Regions from separate parts of the Homo sapiens genome. Here regions 2 and 3 are each linked to region 1. Evidence: fine-mapped expression QTL. A gene starts in region 1. Each other region holds a variant in brackets. All regions are shown on one strand. Distances are between the middles of the regions.

The links. PIP is the estimated chance that this variant, and not a neighbour inherited with it, causes the effect. A credible set is the group of variants that fine-mapping cannot tell apart.
Region 2: its variant is the best candidate, but not a certain one, in a credible set for the expression of CTTNBP2 in thyroid (GTEx, PIP 0.87).
Region 3: its variant is the best candidate, but not a certain one, in a credible set for the expression of CTTNBP2 in tibial nerve (GTEx, PIP 0.55).

Annotation. Positions count from the first base shown.
Region 1 is chr7:117,870,203-117,876,381 of GRCh38, forward strand. It overlaps CTTNBP2 (cortactin binding protein 2), which reads right to left and starts at 3,239. Exons shown (of 23, transcript NM_033427.3): 1 at 3,133-3,239. The coding sequence starts at 3,213.
Region 2 is chr7:117,809,162-117,815,340 of GRCh38, forward strand. CTTNBP2 (cortactin binding protein 2) reads right to left here. Exons shown (of 23, transcript NM_033427.3): 3 at 1,604-1,828. Among named protein-coding and RNA genes, the nearest start is that of CTTNBP2, 61 kb to the right of the region's middle. RefSeq lists enhancers at 753-1,501, 1,502-2,248. The variant C/A (reference allele first, on the strand shown) is at 3,000.
Region 3 is chr7:117,979,390-117,985,568 of GRCh38, forward strand. No RefSeq gene overlaps it. Among named protein-coding and RNA genes, the nearest start is that of CTTNBP2, 110 kb to the left of the region's middle. The variant C/T (reference allele first, on the strand shown) is at 3,087.

The DNA of each region.
Region 1 (6,179 bases):
TTACTTTAGGGTAGCAAAGATCATACTCATGATGCCTGTATCTCAGTAAGTGTTCAGTAATGTGTGTTAAATCTACGTTATTTCCTATTTAAAAATTAAGCTGCAACACTTTCAACATTCTATAGCTGCCACGTAACTATAATTTAGTTTAAAAAAACGCTTAGCGCAATTGGCTACGAAAGTTCTTTTCAGTGCATTTACATTCAATACTGTCACCTGGAAAACAAAAATTTCAAGTTCAGCTGTTAATTTGTTTAACATCACTGTCGTGCATTTTAAATCATTGTCCAAGTTTTTCTTTGTCACTGCCACCATGACAACAAATTTTATACCTACTTCTTGTCTATTAGCTGCTCCAGAAAAGCTCAGAATGACAAGAATGTTGGTTGGCTTCCCAAATATAGCTCTAAAAAGATCTCCATTTTCCTTTCATTCCAAAATTCTTTGGTGACAATAAAAAGCATGAAGATTTCGTTTTCCATACTGCCTTATCCATTAGGAGTTATTTTCAGAGTGGAAACAGCAATATGGCCTATAAAAGTCATCACATTTGGCTAAGGCACTGAAAATAGCCCAGGTTTCCCGGCACGGTTCACGGCAAAGACTATTAATATGATCCTATTGAATAATGTAGCTGTTACCCAGCCTTAAACTTGGGATGCTTTCAGGATTTAAACAGCTAAGAATGAGGATCACAAACTAAATTTAAAACATTCCACTAAAAATGATATTAAACTGAAAACTATAAATTAAGCTTGTTTCTAAGCAACAATCTAAATAGTCAAAGCTTAGTGAAAACACTCACTTTCAAAAATAGCCTACTGCTTTAGAGCTTCCATTGACTCCTTACTGCCAAATGTATACATAAAAATGCACGATATGTAAACCAATTTGAAAGTCAACAAATCTCCAAAATGCAAAGTGAATTGTTCACTAAAATAAAAAATATCAGTCAACAAGAACCCAAAATGCATAAAACGCCTCTGATTTTTAAGGAGCAATTGTGATGACACATATCACTCCTCTACACTAGCTTTCCTTTCACTTAAAAATCAGTCTATAGGTCAAGCGGCTGATATGAGAGAACCATGCCTTATTAAGTCAAAACTATTTGGAGAACTAAAATAAAAGGCCCAATTTACTACAAAAGCCATCATCAAAATTTTACTAAAAATTCAGAAATTATTACTGGTTTTTAAACTACTAGATGAAGAATCCTTATTGCATCTCGCAACCCTAAAGGATTCTATGGAAATAGCAAAGAAGGTTCACTTTCGCAGATTTTCCATGGCTCTGCCCATTAACAAGGGTGAAATTATCAAATCCCCAACTATCAGCAGTGAAAATCAGACTTGAACATTTTAAACAGAAGAGAGGGAACACTGACCTTGTTAACACAGAAATCTGCCTGGCGTCCTGGGTTTTGTTTACGATCTAACCAAACAAAACTATATATCAGCTCTACAGACCATCAGTCAGATGTTTGTGTTTGGGTTAATTGTCAGGTGATTAAAATATTGAGGGTAACAGAAACCCATTCTGAGTGGATTAAGTAAACAAATTCAACCTTTCTGGGGAACAAGAAACACACCACACACACACACACACACACACACCCTCTTTCTTTTTCGTCCTTCCCCTTCACACACACACACACACACACACACACACACCCTCTTTCTTTTTCCTCGTCCTTCCCCTTCCCACCTTTTGGGGATGAAGGCACCAAATCATTTCCACTTGCCAGAGAGCCTTGTCTCAATAGCTAGTTTCCTTACTGTGCCCCACAGAGGGGAGCTGATTCACATAAGTGGGCAGGTTTCGTTTGAAATCTTAAAGTTCTCATTTTCTATGCAAAGAATGGAAACTCAATTTTCCCAAAAGTTCAAATCAAAACTTGCCAGTTTTACAAGTGGAAATTAGCAGTCCTCCTCCCCGTTTCTCCTTCCATTGCCAGGCTCAGCTCCTCTCACCCCAAGTACCTTCCTCCACATCTCTCCTCTCCCTCTCCAGAAAGCCCTACCTCCAGAGGGTGGGAGGAAGTTAAAGCGGCCCCCGCTGTTTACGCCCGGCCCTGCCCTCTCCTGCACTGATTCTGCTCAGGTCTTGATAGGAAGAGGGGGGCGTCCACGCCCCGCTCGCTCCATCCCACCCCATCCTTCGGCGGGAGCAGCCAGATCTGGCCAAGAGTGGGAGGCGCTCCCAGATCTGCCTTTCTCTGCAGCTCCTTGCAGCTCCTGCGAAGCTGCTTCCCAAACACCGAGAACCTTTTCCACCCAGGAAATGTGGGTCCAGCCCTTCCCCAAAGTAGAGGCTGGAAACCACCAGCGAGTCTCTACACCGGAATATTAAGGGGGTGAAAGTAAGGACCAGTCAAGAATGGTAGCGCATTCGGCCTCTAGACTCCAGAGAAGGAGAACAATGTCTTGAAACCAGGTGCAGAACCTCCACCTCTCCTGAGCATCGTCTCGGGAAGAACCAATCCATCCACCCCACCCCAATCACTACCACCAAGTAATGGGGCAGCAGGCTGCTAGGACCTAAAGCGCTGGCCTCAGCGGCAGCAGCGCCCACATCTGGACACGGCCCTCTCCCAGTGGGCCTCCCGAAGGCACAGGACCAGATGCACACAATGGGCATCCCCACACCTGCTGGGCGATGGCCCACCTCCCCCAAGCTGCTCTCCCGGGTCCGCTGAGCGGTACCAGGCACCCCCGAGACACGCGCTGGCAACCACGCGCGCAGCGAGAGGTGAACAATGGGGGGTCAAATTCGCCAGGAAACACGTCCCAGCCTTCTCCCCCGGCCAGAAGCGACCGCAGCGGAGGGAGTGGGCATAGGGGTCGCACTGGACGCAGACAGGGAGCTGGGAGAACCGGGCGACCCGGGGCCGCTTCCCGTGGGGCGCGGAAGGGACAGGAGGGATCCCCAGCCAGGGTGGCCGCTCCGCTCCCCCCCGCGGCCTCCGCCGTGTGGGCATCCCGAGGAAGGGGGGCCCCGATGAAGGGGCACCGGAGAGTCCCGGGCTTACGGAACGCCCCGGGGGTGCGAAGTCGGGTCCGGCTGGGACCCCGGCGCCGCCCCCGGCCCGCGTCTACACTAGCCCCGCGCCCGCCCCGGGAACTCGGTTACCGCCGCCTCCGCCGCGGCCCCCGCCGCGTCCTCCGGGGCCCGGGACAAGTCGGGCTCGCAGCTCGCGCCGTCCGTCGCCATCTTCCTGCTCTAGCGGATCCGAATGCGAGCTCGGAGCCGCGGCTCCGGACTCAGCCGTCTCCGCGCGGGCGGCACTTAACCCGCTGCTGTCCGGGACGCGGGCGCCTGGAGCCGGGAGCCGGGAGCCGCGGCACTCCCTCCGCCCCTCGCCACCGCCCTCGCCGCTTAACCCGCTGCGCGCCGGAGCGCCCCGCCTCGGTCCCGCCCCGCGCCCCGCGTCCCGCGCCCGGTGGCGCCAGCCGCGGGCTCGTGGAGGTGCGAGAAATGGGCGCACGACCTGGCTCCGCTGCGGCCCTGCGCGGGGACTGGGGATCAAAGACCACGGAAGAGGTGAAGGCAGAAAGCGCCCGAGGAGCGTTGCATTCCGCAGAACCCCAACCAAGCCGGAGAAATCCGTGCACAGACCAGATTAAATGTCAGGCCTCCTGAATCTGAATTCTCTGAAAGATCAGGGAAAATCCTACACTTCAGCTCCCTCTATCCCACCGCGAGGAATCACACAGGGCACCCCTTTCTTCTTAAATTGCTCTTTCTTAAATTTCATTGCCGCCAGGGTGTTTTTATCCTCCCTATATATATACACACCTGGCTCTGATTTATTCTATCGTTGACTCTAGTGTTTCTCCAAAAACAATTCTCAGATGAAAACGATTTGTCTGTCCTGTTTTCTTTTAGAACGTGGCACCAGCCCCTCAGCTCCTAACTTTCTATACAATCTCCTTTTCAGGGAATGTGTAGCGGGCTGTTTTATATTCTGTGACCCCCCTAAGTCTGAGATCTCTCCTGAAGGACTAACTGAGAAGTGTTAAATGTCATAGCTTTAAAAGCTAAATGTCATGTCCTCTACTTTTGAGAGAATTTAAAAAAATTACTCCCTACGTGTGAGGACACGTGTACATATACACCAAAAACAATCAAACAAAAGCCGTATTTGTAAAAATAGATTTTATGGGAATTACACGTCTCAGAAGATTTTTCATGAGATGAGTGAATTAGGCCCAAACGCTTAATCTTCCCTTTCCACATCTAATTCAGTTCCTACCCTTTGCTGCCAATTTCCAGAATGTGAAAATCTATCACCTCACCAAGACCATATGGTACAGCCCTTCCCAAATCACCAGATCCCTAAAAATGTGTCGAATGCATAAAATCAAATTGAGACATTCAAGCTGTGTCTCAAAGACGTAAAATCAAACCACAACCAAATCTTGCACTTGAAATTTTGGAAGATGAATGACTAGAATGTTCAGTCCAAGGGTTACAGATCAAAGCTTTTTTTTTTTTTTTCCTTTTTTCTTTCTTTCTTTCTTTCTTCTTTTTTTAATGGCAGGCTCCTAATGAAAGGTTTTGACTCTTTAATTGCTCCACTTTCCAAATTAGACCCAAATATGACACAAACCAGGGCAGAGAAAATCTTTTCTGCAAAGACCCTGAAAGGGATTGATTAATAAACTGTGAAAAGTTCCCTCCCAGAAGAGAGGTCAAGAAAGAACTTTACCTAGAACTCTGGGGCTAAAAGTCAGAGGCTTAGAAATCATCTCCAGGTTATCCTGTGAGTACAGGTACTTATTTATTTATTTATTTATTTATTTATATTGGCTCTGATAGTTACTCCCTCACTTATCCCTTTAATATCCATCCCTGTTCATTATACCACTTTCCTTTATTAAGTATACTCTCTAAAACTGCTCAATATTAGAATAACTAGATTTCTTTAAGATTAAAGAAAACCACTGGACAGTAAAAGTTAGATGTCAAACTGATAGTAAAAATTTAAAGTCCAAGGGCATTCCTTGTTCTTTTCAAAATGCACTTCCACACATTGCAAGGCAATCAATTTTCTTGATTCTGATGTTGAATACTTCTCAAGCAATTAACTGGCAAACTTCTGGAAAAAATAATAATAATAAGTTTTACTCAGGGTTAAGAGTTAGAAATATGAAATGACACCATCTCTGGGAAGCAAATCCCTTTTATACATGCAGCCCAATTTTTAAAAAAAAATCACTGGGAAAAAATTAGCTTGTATTCACCTAAATACAATTAAAGCAGGATCATGTTACAAGGAAATCAGTCCTTGCCCACCCCCCCCCCCCACCGCAAACCCCCACCCATCATTTTTTGTTTGTTTTTGTGAAATGGAAAAAAAATAAATAAAACAGTGATAAAAATCACAGGACACCACATTCTCTAACCACCAAAATCCAGTACCTGGGAAGGAGAATTGACAGCATTCTGTTTCCACCTTAAAACCAGCACTGTTGAAGGTTGGCTGAGGATCTCACCTACTGCACAGAAGTGGCACACTAGGAGTTAACTTCCTCACTAGTAGCCTGGCCTGGGGCTGCTTCTCCACCAGGAGGACACTTGCTGGTTTCAATTCTCTCTTGAGAATTAGTCTCTGCTACTATTGCAAATTAACTCTTTCTAAGACTTTCTTTGCACAAAGGCAGGCTCTATTACAGTCAAAGCAAATAGATGTGAAAGGGTATTGACTTGATGGCTCCAGAAATTAAATCTTTTGAAGCCTCATTAAACAGCTAAATAATAATAATAATTAATAATAAAAATAAAAGATATCCCAGGGTTACAGTGAAAATTACTGAAAGGCAGGGTAAAAAAGGAGAAAGATAGAAGTATAAACAGGAGGAAAATAAATCCCTACAACAAAAATGAATCATGAGTCTTAATCAGTAAATTCCTTTTGGCATTAAAATGGAAGGAGTAATACTGAATATATTGCAAATAGAGAAAACTATTATTTACATCCTTTTTTTGGATCATAACGATGCTGATGACCCACTGACTAAAGAATTTGAGGGTAATTATTTTCCAAACCCTGGAATAGAGGTATTTGTGTTGAGCTATAGCACACTCTCTAAGGGTGAAATGACCAGGGAAATGAGTTCTTAAAGGTGGGAATGCAGACAGATGTTTGGGAGCCAAGTGGTTTTCTGATTAAACCA
Region 2 (6,179 bases), 61 kb before region 1:
AGAAACAAACAGGATGTAAGTTGATTTAAAAAAAAAAAATCAGCTAGATAATAAAATCTTTGATCCAACTAGAAGTGTTCTTTTTTTCTCCTAAAAGAGAAATGAGTTTTGTTAAAGGCAGAACAGAAGTAAAATTTTAGGAAAGTGTTTTTTATATATTCAATGACAACAAAGTGTTTTCTTAATTTTTTATAACACAATATAAAGTCCAGCAGAAATAATTTATTATGAAATAACTCATTTGACACATTACAGGCATAATTGAAATGTATCCCATCCAAGAAATACAAATGAGTTTCAGTGACATCAGCTGAAATTCATTGGCTCTTGTGTATGTGGTTTGTGGGGAGTTTTGAAAACCTCCACATATCTTAGTGGTTGTCTGCAGGGCTTTGTAGAGTCCAGAGTAAAATTCTGATTTTGCCTTACATCTATGGAAAGCCTTCTATTTTTCTTTTACTCAGTGCTTTAGTTTTCTACCATGCAACATACTGAGAAAAATGTTTCCTTTTATGCAGCACCTACACCAGAACACTAACATTTATATGTTAATGTAAAGATGAAATTTCAGGGAAAAGACACGCATGAAATGACAATATGTATCATAAATATTTATAAGTATAGTGCATTCAGGTTAACCATCAACTAGGTGTTACATATGAGATATCAGAAGTTCTCTGAAGAGGCCAAATAAAAGAAACATTTTAATTTATGCTTTAATAATAATGGTGGAGAGAACATATTAGTTTTAATTTTAATCAAACCACACAGCATGAGCTTCTAGCTTTCTCACTCTCTTTTCTAATAAAAGGCATCGATAGTCTTGGCAGCATATTAGAAGGGCAAAATTTAAATTTCTATTTACTTATTTCCTTATTATCACCACAAGTTTTCATTGAACTTTGTACTCTTTGAAGCAGATACTCAAGTGAAAGGAATATGTGTGTGATGGTGGGGGAGGGGGAGAGGAGGAGGAGGTTGGTTTAAATGAAACACATGTGAGCAGGAGGCTTGAGGTCTGCAGCTGACACAGCTATCACACCCCAGAGGTGAGTCTGACACTAACCAGGACTTTAAGATGACACATTGTGAGACTGGACATACCACGCAAACATGCATTCCATTTTCTTCATGTTATTTTCATTTCCCCCCGCCAAAATTAAGAAATAATAAAATAATTTCTAATTGCAAATAACTATTTTAGACAGAAGCTAGATACAGTAAGTTGGGATGTTACTATATGATCAAAGAGTCCTGGTTGCATCACTGGATTAACCTACCTAGCAGCTAAGCATGTTTTCTAGAAGGCACTAGGAAGTCCAAAAACATATATATAGAGAGAGATTTTAAAGAAAGTATCAAAGTAACCATTATCAGAAACATAATTTTTCTGTTATACTTCCTTTATGGTTTAGTGTTATTTTGAGTTACACTTTAAACACTAGGTTACATTGGCTTAAAGAATCTGTCAGCCTCTTGCACTTCTAAGTACTTATTGCAATCCTGTCTGAAAATATAATACTGAAGAACAAACAACTTTGGAGGTGATCTCCTCATTGGACACCATGTTGTGGGGAAAATGACCATTTGAACGCCTCAATACCTTCTTTTGTCTGCTCTCAGCAGCAGCCAGCTGTGCGGACATCCTTTCTTGCATTTTCTTGCAGTGGGCCATGACTGCTTCAAGGATGGAGAGGGGGTTGGTACAAACTGGCTTCTTCTCTTTGTCACCAGCACCTGCTTCATAGTCTCTCTGGAGTGCCAGGAACGGGTCATTTAGATTAAATCTCCCATACCGTTCCTGGATAAATACCTCCTTCCTGCGAGCCTGGAACAAAATTAGAGAAATGTATTGAAGAAAGAAATGAAAATATACAGAAAGATATTTATAAGAAGGTTTTGTGATTATACTTCCAAATGGTATTCTCAACTGCTGTGAGTAATGGCTTATGATGTCAGTGGTGAGTGAGAGGCAAATGTGACCCCCAGTCTCCACTAGCCTGGAATGCCATTCCATCTGCTTTCAAATTTTCTTCAAGAATATTGAATTTTACATTACAAATGATGCAAATATAGTTATTTCCTATGGTGCCCTACTCCTCAAGGATCAGAATTTAAGCAGCAGTCTTTTTTTACACCCCCACCCCTCCACCCCGCCCAACAGGGTCTTGCTCTGTCATCCAGGCTGGAATGCAGTGGCACAATCACAGCTCACTGCAGTCTCAACCTCCTGGGCTCAAACAATCCTCCTGCCTCAGCCTGTCTTATAGCTGGAACTATAGGTGCATGCCACCACACCCAGCTAATTTTTTTGATTTTTTAATTAAGATGGGATCTCACTTTGTTGTCCAGGCTGGTCTCAAACTCCTGGGCTCAAGTAATCCCCCAGCCTTGGCCTCCCAAAGTGCTGGGAGCCACCATGCCCCACCTAGTCTTTTCTAATTTAATGTAAAATCAGAAATATTGACAATTAAAATAATTTTTAGCTAAAGTTCAAAAATAAAATTATCTCTATATCGATAGAACTTACATTTAAAATAATATCAGGTTAAATCACGCATACAAAAAATCCCCTATAGGTTTTTTATAGCCAGAAGGAAATCACATGGATGTCTGGTAAGAAGAAAATTCTTTGTGAAATTTTTAATGTAAAAATTTTAATTAAATTAAAATTTTAATTAAATTAAAATTTTAATGTAAAAATTTTAATTAAATTAAAATTTTAATGTAAAAATTTTAATTAAATTAAAATTTTAATGTAAAAATTTTAATTAAAAAAATTAAAATTTTTAATGTAAAAATAAATAACAATATTCGTAGTTTGTAAAATTTGACCAACTACAACAGCCTTCAAAAAACTTTAAAAGGCATCTATCTCTTTCTCACTGAAGGGCATTAAAATATAGTTCACAGAATCCCAGGAAAGTATGCAACTTAATTATACTCTAAATGTCAGTCCATCAGCGACAAAGTTAATTTCACACCCACGCAATGAGGAC[C/A]AAATGCAATTTTCTATAATTAGCCTACAAAGTCATTGCATAAAAATGGAAAATAGCAGTAGAAATGTATTAAAAGCTAGCAACATTTTCCTAATTCAGGTCATTTTGGAATAGCCACTAGAATGAAAAAAAATCTATGTCACTGCCAGTAAAAAAATTAAGTTATAATAAATCAAGCTTATTTGTCCAAAACATTAAACATGTCTTCTGAAGAAATATTATTAATGCATACAGTTCCATACTTTAAAGGGAACTGAATTGGAAAACTACACTTTTCCATTTTAGGCCACTATCAGCAAGCCAACAACTAGATAAACACAAATCTAATGACAAATGGGAAAAATCTAACATTTCTTTCCTTATCATCAACTTAGATTAATAAATAAAATTTACAAAAAGTCCAGTTTCACAATTAAATTTAAGCTAGCTTTCAGAAGACCACTTTAAACTTAAAAGGTAAGGTTTATGAGCTAAAAGCACTCGGTGTTTCTAGATTCTTTAAATTCAATCATGTAATCAATACACTGAATAAGTATCACTTGAGAGATGCAATTTCAAAAGCAATTTCATTTTGCCCTTCACATTTTTCTTAATATTTATTCAGTGTAGCAGTTCTTCTCCCACCCTTGGATTAACACTTGGATAATTCTATGTTTTTTCCTAATCGTTTTAATTTAATAAAAGACCTACAGTCACTTTGAGCCAAAATAGCCTCTATTTGATTATTAGAATGTCCATCTTCATTCGGTGGTACGGCAGCTTCCTTCATCAGCTAGCATCTGCTGCAGGCTAACATTTACCACTCAGCAAAGAGGTATATATGAAAACCTCTCTCCTTTTCCCAAAACCTTCTCCTCCTCTTTCTAAGCTGTTTTAGTCACCTCTGGGTTGGAAAGGACTGGAGGTAGATGATACAGGAGAGGTGAAGGGAGCAGGAATGTCGTACCGGACTGGTTCAGGTGGTCAGCTAGCTTTACCAACCCAGTGTGAAGAATATTTAAAGTCTATTCTTTTCCCATGAAGTGCCTGGTGATTTCTTAGAGGAACACCCCCTTTTGCACTGCTGGGACCCCTTCATCTACAGTTTCTTCAATGTAGGCCATAAATGTAGGACAAACTACATAATCTGCAGGACCCACTGCAAAATGAAGACATGGGCTTTTTGTTCAAAATTATTAAGCATTTCAATATGGCAACAGCACAGCATTTAACCAGACAAGGGGCCCTTCTAAATGCATGGCCTTTGCGACTGTACAGGTTGCACACCCATGAAGCCAAGCCCTGCATACTCTCATTAGCATTTGGAATCCACCTTTTGACAACTGAGGTCCCATGTTCTCTCCAGACTTCCCTATTGAACAGGACCTGAATCAATCTCATTCCTACCATTTCAAGACCATGGCCCAACATGGTCTACAGGAAACACTCATGGATCTTTATCTAAACAAAAGCTGGGAGTCTCTACAATAAGATCTCCGCGTCTATCTCTCCTTCACGTCTGCAGAATGACTGCTTGTTCAGCCCCACCTCCACTGAGCCCACCAAGATCTGCAGGAAAAACCTATTGTCATTCAAAAGTCTCTCTGAACCCCTTTTCTCTTCAGATGAAGGGAGAAGCAACTGGATGAGGCAGGACTCACAGCACAATTCTCTGCAGAGAAATGCTCTCTGATAGAAATCTTTCTTTAATCTCCAAAAACTACATTATTTTATACCCTCAATGTGGATGAAAGGTTTAAAAGTCAACACTAGCTTTTAAATATTTCTTACAATAATTTGCATCTTGTTCCTCACTTTGGTATCTGATATTTATTATGATGAGTTATCTGCTGAAACTGACATTTTAACAACTCATTGTAATTACCTGGTGTCTACTCACCCACACAACATATTTTATGATGTACAGTACTTGTAACACTAATCAAGCAATTTCTTAACACACAGGTTATTAAGTCTGAGTAAACTTTTTGATAAGTGGGTTAAAAATTAAAATTAATTTTTTGTATAATATGAGAGGTAAATACATATATCACAGACCTAGTTCCAGTTTTACCCAACAGATTTTATGGTCAAAAAGCATTTAATTCTTTTTTTTTTTCTTACTGGTGTGAAATAGTTTTTTACATGTGTATTTTTGTTGTGTTTTTTTATTTTAAAATTACTAGTTTTAACTGAGTCATATTGTGACACTGTTAAATGCAGACGAATTTTTTTCTGCTGAAAATGTTGTATAACAATACATGTACAGGTTCATAAACATAAAACTGCCTATTTATTTATTTTGAGATAGGGTCTTGCTCTGCCACCCAGGCTGGAGTGCAGTGGCGTGATCACGGCTCACTGTAGCCTTGAACTCTCAGGCTTTAGTGATCTTCCCACACCTCAGCTTCCCGAGTAGCTGAGACTATAGGCACGTGCCACTACGCCCAGCTAATTTTTAAATTTTTGGTAGAGATGAAGTCTCACTATGTTGCTCAGGCTGATCTTGAACTCCTAAGCTCAAGCAATCCTCCTGCCTCAGCCTCACAAAGTACTGGGATTACAGGAGTGAGCCTCCGTGACAGCCTAAAACCACCAATTTATTTGCTTCACAAATATGGACTGACATTTAGCCTTTACGAAGTATAAAATATGTACATTAGATTCCTTTAAGGGTAAAAACAGTGGCTTTGTATTTGTTGCTAACTAGCTATGCAACTGTGTTGCTGATATCTTTAGTTGTCAAAATGAGAGAAATGAAGCAGTATTATTTGTTGCTTAAGACACCTTGAGTTTAGACAAAAAACCTGATCTCATTCTTTCATTTTTAAGTCCCTAAAAGCATGAAAACCAGGCAAAAATGAATGTCAAAGACCACGTGTTCTTCATTAACATCCTAAACTCATATTTATTATTTTCAGAGATGCCAGGTAATAATGTTGTTCTATGACCACATATGCATTTATTTGTGTATATTACATATATTCAAAATGTACTTTTGATATTCTTGTCTTATAGCAAGGGTTTCTAGAAATACGTAATTCTAACAATTAAAATGTGCTTTTCGGTCTACAGTTTTCTATCAAGCTTATAAATTAGAATGCAGTTGCCCATTTTGATTCCATGGTGAAAACTCATAGATTAAATAAGAATAGGACATGAAGACAAGATGCTATAATATGAATGCAGTGCACTCACAAC
Region 3 (6,179 bases), 110 kb after region 1:
GGTCCTCTGGGTGTCCTCTCCCATGGGGCTTTGGTAACACTATGGCTTCCCTCTGTCCCTTTAGAGAAGAGAGTGGCTTCCTGAAAGTTGCTTCCTGGGTTGCCTTGCTGGTCCTTCTAGGTCTTATTCCCTGTGGAACAAGTTCCCTAGATTTCATTTCATCTGTTTTTGATATTCAAAATGGTTTCTGCTTCATGGCTGGATCATAACAGACACATCCTACCTATTCAGAAAAACCCAGATAATGCCGTACGCTTTTAGGAATAGAGGAAAAATAAACTATGTACCATTTTTTAAAAATGCCATCATTTGCTTGTTTAATCTATTGAATTTGAAATTAAAATTACCTCAAAAATTTTCCATTTTTTCATCTACTGTTTAATGTTTCTGATATCGCTCTCTCTTAAGAGTATGACCACACATTAAAATTTTACACCAGATGTTTTCATTACTCTGCAATAAAAACTCTTGGCATTGTATTTTTCATACATTTTAAGCTATTGTCATGGCCATTTCATCTTTGGGCCAAGCTTCTCTTGCTCATTTTGTTAATGAGTCATCTCATCTTCTTGTAAGCCAATCTCAAAGAAAAATGGCTTTTTGGACTACGTTAGGCTTTGTTTAACTTATTCAAGCCAGGGCACACTTTTGACTTAATAAATGAACCATTACTATTAGGAGATCAGCAAAATCTATTTGACGCCTACCTTCTATAGCTCTGTAATACATATTATGGGAACAGAAACATGAAGGAGCTCACACACCCTACCTGGTAGAGAGGGAGGGGTGGACCATTTGGTTTTCAAGGGATGAAGGTACAGAATGATATGACTAATAACCCTAGAAGAAAAGGCAGTCACATAGAGGAATTTAGGCTTAAATTTTGTATAAGCACATTATAACCTGAGATGAGTCACGTGAATGGACCGATACTACAAACAGGTGAGACTGACTAAGAACCACTTCATGAAAGAAGTGAGCTTTAAGCAGAAGAAAGAGACCAAGCAGCTTTAGTGGGGAAGGTGGGGTAAAATGATATTTCTAGGTAGGCAAAAAGCACACACAGAGGCTTAAAGTTCCAGAAAATAAAGAGCAAATGGATTTACCAGGCAGGAGGACACAAGAGCAGGTCAGTTGTGAAGCAGAGAGGGAAGAGAAGTAGAAACAGCAGCCTAGTGCAGAGTCCTGAATGAGTTAGGAAGAGATTTGATGCGGAAGACGAAGAGAGGATTCTGAGGGTGGGAATAAATCGCTTTCTTTTAACCTTATCTCTTTCGTGCTTTGAGACTAGAAAACCTTCTTAATGTGTTAGGGGATTTTGGGAAAAATGTCCCTAATATGTGAGAATAAAATAGAAACTTGTATATAGAAGCCTGTGTATACTGAGGATGCTCAGCTCCTTCGATGACTTATGTTTGATTTGTATGAGTTCAAATGGCCCAAAAGGGCTGAAAGCCAGGTCTCCAGACTTGAGACTGATGTTTTTCTGACCATGTCATTCTTTTTTACAAAGCGTTACTTGTCACTACTGGGAGACAGAATATTGGACTGAATAGATAACTACTCTGATCTACAATGGCATATTTTTTGGTTTATTTCTTTTTGATGAATTCTTTCACTTTTAAAAAAATTTCCTCAAGATCCTCCACACTAATATTAGTCTCAGACTCTCTGATTTACCTTCACTCTTCCACTCCTTGCTGCTGACAGAGTGCTCAGATTTGATCAAGAGGTTGCATTGTTTAAAACCTACCAATGCACTCTCCACATGCAGAGAGGTCCATGCTCTTGGTATGGCATGTGTGTAGGGTTGCCAGGTTGGCAAATAAAAAATACAGGATATCTAGCTAATTTGAATTTTAAACATTGGATTTTTAAATGTATAAGTATGTCCTGTGAAATATTTAGGACATACTTATGCTAAAAAAGTAATGTCTATCTGAAATTCAAAGTTAACTGGGCACCCTCTATTTTATCTGGCAACACTAGATAGACAGTCCATCCTTATCTTCCACCCTAGGCTCTTCTTGCACCATCCCCTCACCCCCGCTCCACCCCGGTGCCCAACATTCCAGCCATCTCCATCTGCCCCAGTTCCTGGGACCCTCCCGCATTTCGTATGTTAACTGCCACCAGCACTTTACTCACATTGTGCTCTCTGCCTGAACTAAAGTTCTTTTACTTAAATCTGGACCTTGAGGACTGTGGAACTCCAAATGGAGGACATCCAGTAAGGTGTATTCTGCCATTTCTTCTGGAAGCCCCCGCTTCTGCCAGTGGGGCAAAGGGTTCTGGGTGAAGGGGTTGCGGCTATGCTGTTGGGGAGTAGGAATCAATGTTTCAGGCCTGGTCTTTTCAGTCTGAAGGTGCTCTCCCTGTTTCAAAATAACAGAGTCTCACTTGCTCCTGAAATAACCTTCCTTACAGCTTTATAAGTACAGCCTTGACTCGGGGCCCCCAGCTCAAGGCTCACTGTCCTTCCCTAGGCTGCACAGCTCCCTTTCTGGACTGGCCATCGCCACTGTGAACCCTGCCAGGTTCATGTGGATCATCAGAGAAGCTCCTGCCTTGTGTTGACTGGGGTCCTGCTTCTACCCACACTAGAGCTCTCCAGCAAAGCAGCCTTCCCAAATTATATCTCAAATGGTGTGGATGCTTTTGTTAAACTGGTTTCCCTCATTTTAAAATAATGTCTATGTTGTAACATCGGGAAATGTGACACTTGGATAAACAACTTTTGATATAAAAGTCTCTGTATGTGTGAAATTGAAATAGGGCACATCAATTAAACTCTCAATCAACAATTAAGCATATTTTCATGTTATGAGGACTAAGAATAATGGGTTTGATCAAGCTGCTATTTGTGAGAATATGCTGACCCTGCATCTAAGAAATTCCGCTCCTGTGGGAAGAGCTTATTCCTGATATCAAATGTAATGTTTCTCTATGACAATCAGAGTGTGGGTTTCTAGCAGGATTTCCCACCGGCTGAATAAACAAATGTTACAAAGTGTTTACCAGTGTATCACTAGAAGTTTCTGGAAATTGCATTTAAAAGATCTGTCTGTGTACTTAGATTCTTCCTT[C/T]CTTAGGCAGAGAACCACACAGACAGTCCCAGGCTAATCTGCAAAGCGCACTGCAGTTGCACTAAATCCTCCCAGCAAAACATCATAAAACCCTTCCTGTTTGACTTTACACAGCATTTAAACATCAAAATAATTACCAGGAGGCTGAGGAAGCCGTGTCACAGCTCAGGTCAAGCTGTTCTCTCCCGAAGCAGAGGTACAGAGCAGAATGTGCACGGCGGCTGATTAGGGCAAGTGGGCCAGGCTTAGGGATGGGAGAAAAGGTAGGACACTGTAATGGGAGGTCAATTATCTCATGCCATCTTTAGGTACCAGCAATGAGTAACTTTATGAAGAACTACTTTATGTTCTTTAGAAGTCCTTCAGAGCTAACGTGATGCAATATAGCTGTTACTCATTCACTTCCTTAAACTTTAAACTTTTTGAGGTTTACAAATTAAATCATAATAATATAAAACAATTATGTCCAGTAACAGCCACATCTGACTGATTGGCACTGCTGTTATATAAAACTCCTTAGAGAACTCTCGGTTTGATGTTAAAATAAAAAAAGAAAAAAGCCTCGTTTTTCAAAAAGGAGGACAACTGACTCTTCAAGATGCATTTTTCTTCCTTTTAGCCCTTCATGCATGCCTCATTCTGTGCATGAAAAAACTGAATATATTTCCTAGGGTCGGTCACACTGCTTTCCACAGTTTGCAAAAATTAAGGGATATTACTGGATTAAAAACAAGCAAACACCGTGCCCATTCTGTCAAACAGCCATGCTGTTCTGAGTATGATGTGCCATGCTCAGAAAATAGGCCGTGCTCATTTTTATTGATTTATTTCAAAACTTCTCTCAGTCAAAGCGACCCTGGAGGTTTAATAACATTTTTTGCTATAGACTGCAGCAGAGACATATTAGGCAGGACTGGTGAAATATAGCCATTAACATATAAATCCAATGCCTTATCAATAACACATTTTAAAGTTGGTGACAAGACCTAAAAATCATCATTTAATACCATTACATTCAGCAGCTTTTTCATTTGACATGATGCTTTAGTGATTTAGTGCCATGACTATAAAATGTCAGGAGGATTTATTGGCGTGAATCAGATCAATTCGTATTAGAAAATAGGAACAAAAACTAAAACATCCTTTTTGCGACCTACTATATTCTGTTCTAAGCAGAGAGGATTGAAGTAATATCTAATTAGAACCCTTAATATTAGCATTAGAATTATTTTTTCTTAAATTTCATTCTAAAGCATGGAGCAATTGTGTCTAGGAGTCACGGCAGAAAATGAAAGATATTTTATCCATGGGCAGCACATTTCCAGTTCCATCAAGCTCAAGTAATAATTTTATCAATCATCATATAAAGAGTAGATTTCTAAGTGAATCTTGAATCTGTTTTAGAGGAATAAATGGGAGAGAAACACCAGGACATTGAATTATTTCAAATATAATGACAATTAATCCCTCCTGCCATATTGATGTTTGTTTCCATGGAAACATTGCTTACAAAAAATAGTTAATATTTTGTTTTGCTTGGGAAATCAAGTTTACACATTTCTTCCCGCACAATTACTATGATTAGTTATGAGAATTAGCATTGGACTTAATATCACTTCTAAGCAAGTGTGATAAATACTATGGTAGGGGTATGCCGAGAGCACAGAGGAGGATCACGTAGCTCAGACTATCCAGGAAGGCTTCTTGGAAGAGGTGATGCCTGAGTTGCCTTCAAGGACAAGAAAGAGTTAGGTGAAGAATGAAGGAAGGGATATCCAGGTGGAGGAAATAAAAGAGGAACAAGAAAATAGTAGAGAAAGAAGAATCAGATTCTGGATATTAGCGCTTTGTCAGATGAGTAGGTTGCGAAAATTTTCTCCCATTTTGTAGGTTGCCTGTTCACTCTGATGGTAGTTTCTTTTGCTGTGCAGAAGCTCTTCAGTTTAATTAGATCTCATTTGTCAATTTTGGCTTTTGTTGCCATTGCTTTTAGTGTTTTAGACATGAAGTCCTTGCCCATGCCTATGTCCTGAATGGTAATGCCTAGGTTTTCTTCTACGGTTTTTATGGTTTTAGGTCTAACATTTAAGTCTTTAATCCATCTTGAATTAATTTTTGTATAAGGTGTAAGGAAGGGATCCAGTTTCAGCTTTCTACATATGGCTAGCCAGTTTTCCCAGCAGCATTTATTAAATAGGGAAAATGAAATCAAATAAATTTACAAGAAAAAAACAAACAACCCCATCAAAAAGTGGGTGAAGGACATGAACAGACACTTCTCAAAAGAAGACATTTATGCAGCCAAAAAACACATGAAAAAATGCTCACCATCACTGGCCATCAGAGAAATGCAAATCAAAACCACTATGAGATACCATCTCACACCAATTAGAATGGCAATCTTTAAAATGTCAGGAAACAACAGGTGCTGGAGAGGATGTGGAGAAATAGGAACACTTTTACACTGTTGGTGGGACTGTAAACTAGTTCAACCATTGTGGAAGTCAGTGTGGCGATTCCTCAGGGATCTAGAACTAGAAATACCATTTGACCCAGCCATCCCATTATTGGGTATATACCCAAAGGATTATAAATCATGCTGCTATAAAGACACATGCACATGTATGTTTATTGCGGCACTATTCACAAGAGCAAAGACTTGGAACCAACCCAAATGTCCAACAATGATAGACTGGATTAAGAAAATGTGGCACATATACACCATGGAATACTATGCAGCCATAAAAAATGATGAGTTCATGTCCTTCGTAGGGACATGGATGAAACTGGAAATCATCATTCTCAGTAAACTGTTGCAAGGACAAAAAACCAAACACTGCATGTTCTCACTCATAGGTGGGAATTGAACAATGAGAACACATGGACACAGGAAGGGGAACAACACACTCTGGGGACTGTTGTGGGGTTGCGGGGAGGGGGGAGGGATAGCATTAGGAGATATACCTAATGCTAAATGACAAGTTAATGGGTGCAGCACACCAGCATGGCACATGTATACATATGTAACTAACCTGCACATTGTGCACATGTACCCTAAAACTTAAAGTACAATAATAATAAAATAAAATAAAT